Linked DNA regions of Homo sapiens. The protein of the gene in region 1 purifies or fractionates together with the protein of each later gene. This does not show direct contact. Each region holds a gene or a part of one and is shown in the gene's direction. Other genes may lie near its edges.

Region 1 (3,821 bases):
AAAAAAAGGCATGAAACTTTTCATTTAGGTTTTGCCTGAGGATTTATTCCAAAAGAGCATAGACAACTCCTGTTCTGCTTTTCATCGTAAGTATTCTTGGTTCAGAGACCAATTTTATTTAAAATTATTTGAGTTTTCATTGGCAGTAATAACCCTTAGATAGTAACAAGATAAATGTGGTTGACATTCCTGGAGCAATAGTTACGTCATTCTGTCTTTTATGCTTTTATCAAACCAAAAGAACAGGCTTGAAGAACTTGTATCTTAATGGCTGCTGTTTTGGTGTTTACTGGTAGAAAACGGTTCCTCTTTCTTTTGCTGTTCTTATGCTCTTTTTCTATAGAAAGTAGGAGTTAAGTTCACGGTTATTGTAAGATGCTTCCCTGAAAGGGCAAGCATAATCTTAGCCCAGTGAGATAGTAAGGACCTATGGCATAATTCACCTGAGGGGATAATGATTTGGATCTCTCTCTGTTCTCTGCAGGTGGCTTTCAAGGTCCTGATATGGGGTGAGAAAGGGTCTGTTGTGGTTGTGGTAGAGACTGGAGCTATTTAGGTTTAACTTCTTGAGGATTTCTAGTACACTATCTCCTGCAGCACATGTCATTAATATATATTATCATATATATATTAATTTCATCCTGAATTTGTCAGGGTTGGCTTCCTTGGCCCTCAGATCCTTGGGTTCTTTATATTTTAGTCACTCTTCTGATTTTATGCACTCCTGTAAGAGTTGGGCACACTAATTTCTGTCCCAGTGTTGGAGGGGATGGGGATAGGAGGTAAGACTCATTAGAGGACTGTTACTAGGAGGAAAAGATCTAGGCTCTTCAAAGAAAATAATCCTCTTTTACCCTTGTAATTTGCTCATAAAAAAAAATCTCCACAGAAGATGGTGGCTGGAAGTGAGTATGCACACATGTGCAGTATTCATGAGGTGCCTGGGCCCTCTGTCTGATGCTGCAGGCTGACAAAATCCTGGCTTATTTAGAATTGATTGTTTTAATGGCAGCAGGGTGTTATTATATGTTGTGATAACAGAGCATAGGGCCTGGTGCTGCTCCCTGCTGTTGCAGATTCTCAATCAGTAATGTAATGTTGATTGGATAAAATGTGCATTGCAGACTCAGCATTACTTTTACTGTAGTTGGCTTTGGTTGTTCATGGAATTACCATATCTTGTTTTTGGAGGCTCTTGTAGTAGTTCTGAGTGATGCTTTCCTTTGTACCACACATTATGATTGATATGAGCCTTTTCTTTAGCTGAGAAGCCCCAGTGCATTTTACTGGATCCTCCTTCAAGCTCAGTAAATTGGTTCAGCCAATGCACTCATTTATTTCCTCTAAAGAAGTTTCAGGCTTTATTTACATTATAGTGGGCCTTTGTTAAAAATAATCTGACTTAATGATTTCCAAGGTACTGAATAAAGCAGAGAAATTCCCAGTGAGCACTATTTCCAGAATAATAAGAAGTATATTACTTCCAAGAGTGCTTGCCATGACTGTTGTCACTTGCTGGAGTTTTGTGTCCCTCATAGTCTGGACTGACAGAATGAGAATCAGAAGGAATATTGGAGCCTTTTGGTGACAATCATGGCCTATCTGAGGTTGGATACCTAGCAGCAAGTAGTATGGCATTTGGATCTATCCCTGTATCTAACACATGATAGGGGGCCCCTTACTGCCTCCACAAGTGAAACCTTTGCCTAGTGTGTTCATGACTCTGCCTACTGTTCAGCTCCTGAAGCTAACAGCTAACAGGAGATTCCCAGCAGGTTCTCAACTTCTTCTTCCTTTGACTCTCTAGATCAGACTTGTTGTGGAAGAGGGATTGAATCAGCTGCCATATAAAGAATGCATGGTGACCACTCCAACAGGTAACTAGGGCTGTTATTCTCAAATTTTCCTCATAAAAATTCTGAGCTAGAATGGGGAAAGATGTAAGTAAAGCAGTCTAAGTAAAATAAATATGCAAAATGAAGGGCTAGGTGGAGCTATTCTTTTAAAATCTTAAAAATAAAACTCAGGCATTTAGGAAAGAAATCTGTGTAGATGACTTTTTGTTAAGGGCTTGCTTGTCAATTCAAGTTAAAGGTTAACAAATACTCTTCAGCATGCACGTGTTGCCTCTAATGATGGCCCATTGAGACCATAGTTAAGAATTGCTGGCAGCTTATCTTCATCTCTATGGGAAAGCTGCTGGTGAGCACAAATGGGCAAGTCTGTTTTGGCACTGAAATTACATGTTAAAAAAGGATAGAAAGTAAAAAAGAAAACTAAAAATGATAAGAATTGGAGAAGGTGCTTTGTTCTATCCTTTAATAGAAAGTAGCCAAAGATCCCTGTTTCAGGGATTTGAAATTATGATTTGGTTCAGTAAATAACGTAAAACTGTTCTATTCAAAGGGTTTACTTTATGAAACTTGGGGACTGAGTTTGTAGCATCATAATTGACACAAATTCAGGATGAGACCAAGAGTTGAGCATGTCTTAATAACTATTTCAGCCACTTTCTTCTGCTTTTAAGGCAGAATGGAGGCTCATAAAGAAGAACAGAGGCTCATAAAGAAGAATGGAATGAGGAAGCTTTCTGCTGTGGCTCACAGTGGGGTCCCAGTTTGAATTGATGGGGTATATAGCATTCTCAGAGTGCAGTGATTCTCTTTGAATTCAGTTTGAGGAATGTGTATGTGAATATCGTGTTATAATAAGTCCTATTCCCATTCAATGAAGTCTGCCTCTCCCAATTATCCCCACAGGTTTCTTATGAAGAATTAAGAAATAACTGAAAAATCATGACTCATCTCATTATTTCCACAGGGAATCTCAGGCATTATACAGTGTGTCTGAACAAGGGTTGCTTTGTGCCCATCTACTTTAAACCGTAGACACTTTATAAAATATGTAGGTTACTCCAGTGATGAAAGATAAATTCTTTGGTTTTATTTCCTAACAGGGTACAAGTATGAAGGAGTGAAATTTGAGAAGGGAAATTGTGGGGTCAGCATAATGAGAAGCGGTAGGTTCACGTGTGTGTGATTTTTGTCTCTTTGTATGCATAGAAATGGTTGCTGTTTTCCAGAAGAGAGGCAGGCTTGTCTGTCATAATTGCAGCCTGCCTTTAGTTAAATCTCACTACCTGTGTTATCTAGCCTCATGGTGCTGTGGAGTCATGGCCTGTGTGAGGCTAGGTTTGGCTAATTTTAACTACAGAGCGTATTCCCTAATAGAGTGCTCCCATGGGCAAGCCAGCTTTCAAAGAGATTCAGAGGAGGATGGGAGGATAGGAGGATGTGGTGATGCTATCTTGGGGAGAACAGGTCAGTTTGAAGACTGAGGGAATATGGTATAAATTCGGGCTTGGAGAACTTTGAATACCTGACTGGAGAAAATATTTCTTCTGTTTTTATTTCTGTTGTTGGGCTAAATGACTTGTTTGATATTTTTACTTTTTTTTTTTTTTAGACAGGGTCTCACTCTATTGTCCAGGCTGGAGTATGGTGGCGTGATCATAGCTCGCTGTAACCTCAAACTCCTGAGTTCAAGTAATCCTCCCACCTCAGCCTCCTGAGCAGCTAGTACTACAGGCACATGCCACTATACCTAGCAAATTAAAAAACAATTTTTTTTTTTTTTTGGTAGAGATGAGGTCTTGCTATGTTGCCCAGGCTGGTCTAAAACTCCTGGCCTCCAGTGATGCTCCTGCCTCAGCCTCCGAAAGTGCTGGGATTATGGGCATGAGCCACCATACCCAACCTAATACTTTAAAACTTTATATATGATGAGTACGTGACCACATAGGCAAAAGTGCTTGACTGTCA
Region 2 (3,821 bases), on another chromosome or scaffold:
GGGCGGATCGCGAGGTCAGGAGATCGAGACCATCCTGGCTAACACGGTGAAACCCCGTCTCTACTAAAAATACAAAAATTAGCCGGGCATGGTGGCGCGCGCCTGTAGTCCCAGCTACACGGGAGGCTGAGGCAGGAGAATGGCGTGAACCCAGGAGGCGGAGCTTGCAGTGAGTCGAGATCGCGCCACTGCACTCCAGCCTGGGCCACAGAGCGAAACTCCGTCTCAAAAAAAAAAAAAAAAAAAAAAAAAATTGGGTAGACCAGTTCTTCTTACTTTACTCTTCTCAAAATTGTTTTAAATATATTAGTTTCTGTACATTTCCATATAAAATTTAGGATAGTCTTATCTATACCTACAAAAAAATCTTCCTGGGATTTTGATAGGGATTATTTTAAACTTGTGTATCAGTTTGGTCTCCACTGACACTGCAAAACTTCATTACTGGTCGGTTGGTTGGTTTGAATGTCCAGGATCCCTCCAGGTCCTTCTCTGATTCTACACTAGTGGAGTGTGTTGGGGTGCTTGATTGTAGGTAGAAGTCCAAGCTCTCCCCACTTGGCCTTTGTAGCGTGCCTGGGGGTGGGATTACAGTTTTGTGTGTGTGTGTGTGTGTGTGTGTGTGTTTGTGTTTGGCTGGAGTAGAATGATTATTATCTAAAACTTTTCTGTCTTCCTAGGCTGCCCTTTGTATAGTTCTTTAACGAGAAAGCAGGCTTTTATTGGGGGGTTTTATTGTTGGCATCTCTTGCCATTTCTGATTGCTGGGATCTTTAGTGAGCTGTAGGAGGCAGAAGAAAACCCAAGGAACTCATCATATTCCTTGGGTCCTGAGGTTCATAGCCAGTCTGCCTTATGCTTGTTTTATATATAATGTCCAGAGTTTTATTTGTATTTTGCTGGCGGGGCAGGGAAAAATGTGCTTATCTTCTTGCAAGCTGTGTCCACATTTTCTTCTTTTAATTATAAAAATTTTGAATATTTAGAAAAGTCGTATAGGATAATGAACATGAACCTATCTAGTTTCTAGTTTTAAGAGTTGTAAATGCTTTTCAGTATGTCTTAATCTATTTTTTCTTCTTTTTTGAGATGGAGTTTTGCTCTGTTGCCCAGGCTGGAGTGCAGTGGTGCACTCTCGACTCACTGCAACCTCTGCCTCCTGGGTTCCAGCGATTCTCCTTCCTCAGCCTCCCAAGTAGCTAAAACTGCAGGTGTACACCACCATGCCTGGCTAATTTTGTACTTTTAAAAGAGATGGGGTTTCACCATGTTGGCCAGGCTGGTCTCAAACGCCTGACCTCAAGTTATGCGCCCACCTCCCCAAAGTGCTGGGATTACAGGCATAAGCCACCCAAAGTGCTGGGATTACAGGCATAAGCCACTGTGGCTAGCCAGTCTATTTTTTCTGAGGTCCTTTTAAAGTAAATTATAGACATAATGACATTTCACTTCTAAATATTCAATATGCATCTCTAAAAAATAAAATTTTTGAATATAAGGACAATACTTTATATCGAATGATTTATAATAACTTCTTCATATTATCTAATATCCAGCTTATATTCTGATTTCCCTAGTTATACCCAAAATTTCTTATAGCTTGACAGACAAAGAAGAAACAATCAAGAACATGAACTGCATTTTGTTGTTAGGCTTTTACGCTTCCTGTTATCTGAAACAGTTCCTCTCCTACTTTTTCCTACTTGACATTGATTTGTTGAAGAAATAGTTCCTGTTGAACCTTGGAATGTCCCATTGTCATTAGGGTTTTGTCTGATTGTTTCATTGTGTTTCTTTTTTCAATATACCCAAGATAGTACTTCATCCTTGTGTTTCTTTATCTCTTGTATTTTCTATAAATTTGAAGTTAGATCCAAAGGCTTGATTAGATTCAAATTTGGTGAGAATATTTCATAAATGATGCTACGCTAAGCAGATTTTCATAAGTTGATTTTATTTATAACTTTTATGTGGTAGAGAATATGCCTTCTGCATCCTGTGATACACTACTGGATGACATCGAAGATATCGTGTCTCAGGAAGATTCAAAACCACAAGATAGGCATTTTGTAAGAAAGGATGTTGTCCCGAAGGTACGAAGGCGAAATACCCAAAAATATTTGCAAGAGGAAGAAAACAGTCCACCAAGTGACAGGTAAGCTTTTTTCCTTGAAATTATATTCATTTTCTTTTTTTTTCTTTTGAGACAGAGTCTTGCTCTGTCGCCCAGGCTGGAGTGCAGTGGTGTGATCTCGGTTCACTGCAACCTCCTCCTCCTGGATTCAAGCTATTCTCCTGCCTCTGCCTCCCTAGTAGCTGTGATTACAGGCACACACCACCATACCTGGCTATTTTTTGTATTTTTAGTAGAGATGGGGTTTCACCATGTTGGCCAGGCTGGTCTTGAACTCCTAACCTCAGGTGATCTGCCCACCTTGGCCTCCCAAAGTACTGGGATTACTGGCCTGAGCCACTGAGCACGGCCGAAATTATATTCATTTTCATTCCAGGGAGAAGCTGACGCTACTGGTCTGTGTGATATATATAATGTCTCTTCATTAGAATCTTTGAACTTTTGATAGGAAATACAAGTTGAGTATCACTTATCTGAAATGCTTGAGACCAGAAGTGTTTCAGATATCACATTTTTTTTTTTGGATTTCGGAATATTTGCATTACATACTTTCCAGTTGAGTATTCCTAATCCAAACATCTGAAATGCTCCAGTGAGCATCCTTTGAGTATCATTTTGGCACTCAAAAAGTTTCAGATTTTAGAGCATTGTGGATTTTGAATTTTTGAATTAAAGAAACTCAACCTGTATGTAGATTTTTTTTTTATTTGAATGATTTTAAATTTGGCAAGGTAATTGGTTAAAAAGAAATGAGATGTCAAATTGGATGTTCCTAGAAGATAGCCTCGGGCAATAGGGATCTCTTGGGTATTACTGTAGTTGATATGTAAGTCTGTGTTATTTCCAAATAAAATTTTTACCAGAGTTTGTGATTCTTATGAGACAGTAGTATTTTGGACATTTGAATTTTCTTAGCTGATTTTCAAATACCTGTGGATCAGGTAAAGGCAGTGGGCACAAATAAATTATTGCCCTATTTACGCTATTATAGTAGATCTCTAGTCCGTGAAATTTTGATACAACCTAACCAGAAAGGATAATGTAATTATATGGTTTTAATAAGCCTATATTTGTTTATCTAGTCAACTGCTGAACTTTATAATCTGCTTATTTTGTTGGGAAACTAAGCTTTTAAATTCTTGGAATTTAAAATTTGCTTATATTTTAATGACTGAAGTTTATAAAATTTGTCCTAAATGTGTCCTTAAGGTAATTTTTATTTACTTATAAATTATTAGAGCAATCCAAGTTGAAAGTCCTTTTTTCCCCTAAAAGTTATTTTTAGAACTCTGATTTTATAGAGTGCTTTTAATAATGCTTTAGGATGACGGTTTTTAACTTTGATTAAGTTACTTATATCTGTAAGTTTTAAGGAAGCTACAGATTGCAACTAGTATGTAGGAATCTGTAAACAGACATACTTTTCTTTATTTGCCATTGCTGCTAGAACCACTTTCTTTCCTATTGTTATTTTTGTGTACCTTTCCAGGAGTTGAACTTAGTAAGTTAGTAGTATGAATTTAAAATGCAATTCAGAGAAAAAGGATATTTTTTTATGTGGAGTGTTAACTTTTTAGAATTCTGTGGTTATTTTATCTTGATTTTAGACTTTTGATACAACAACAGATTTTGAGTTAAGTTGGTGCGTTTAATGAATAGCTTTTGAATGGATTGTAGTGAGTTTGTT

The links.
Region 2: the proteins of UPRT (region 1) and CDKAL1 purify together in Homo sapiens (affinity purification with mass spectrometry; one large-scale study listed by BioGRID and IntAct). This does not show direct contact.

What each region holds. Positions count from the first base shown.
Region 1 is NC_000023.11:75,294,535-75,298,355, forward strand, and holds part of UPRT (uracil phosphoribosyltransferase homolog), read left to right. Parts: intron 1-28; coding exon of another isoform or gene 29-86; intron 87-484; coding exon of another isoform or gene 485-513; exon of another isoform or gene 514-1,807; coding exon 1,808-1,877; intron 1,878-2,956; coding exon 2,957-3,019; intron 3,020-3,821.
Region 2 is NC_000006.12:20,544,369-20,548,189, forward strand, and holds part of CDKAL1 (threonylcarbamoyladenosine tRNA methylthiotransferase), read left to right. Parts: intron 1-1,970; exon of another isoform or gene 1,971-1,977; 5' UTR 1,978-1,982; coding exon 1,983-2,155; intron 2,156-3,821. UniProt on the Homo sapiens protein: Catalyzes the methylthiolation of N6-threonylcarbamoyladenosine (t(6)A), leading to the formation of 2-methylthio-N6-threonylcarbamoyladenosine (ms(2)t(6)A) at position 37 in tRNAs that read codons beginning with adenine.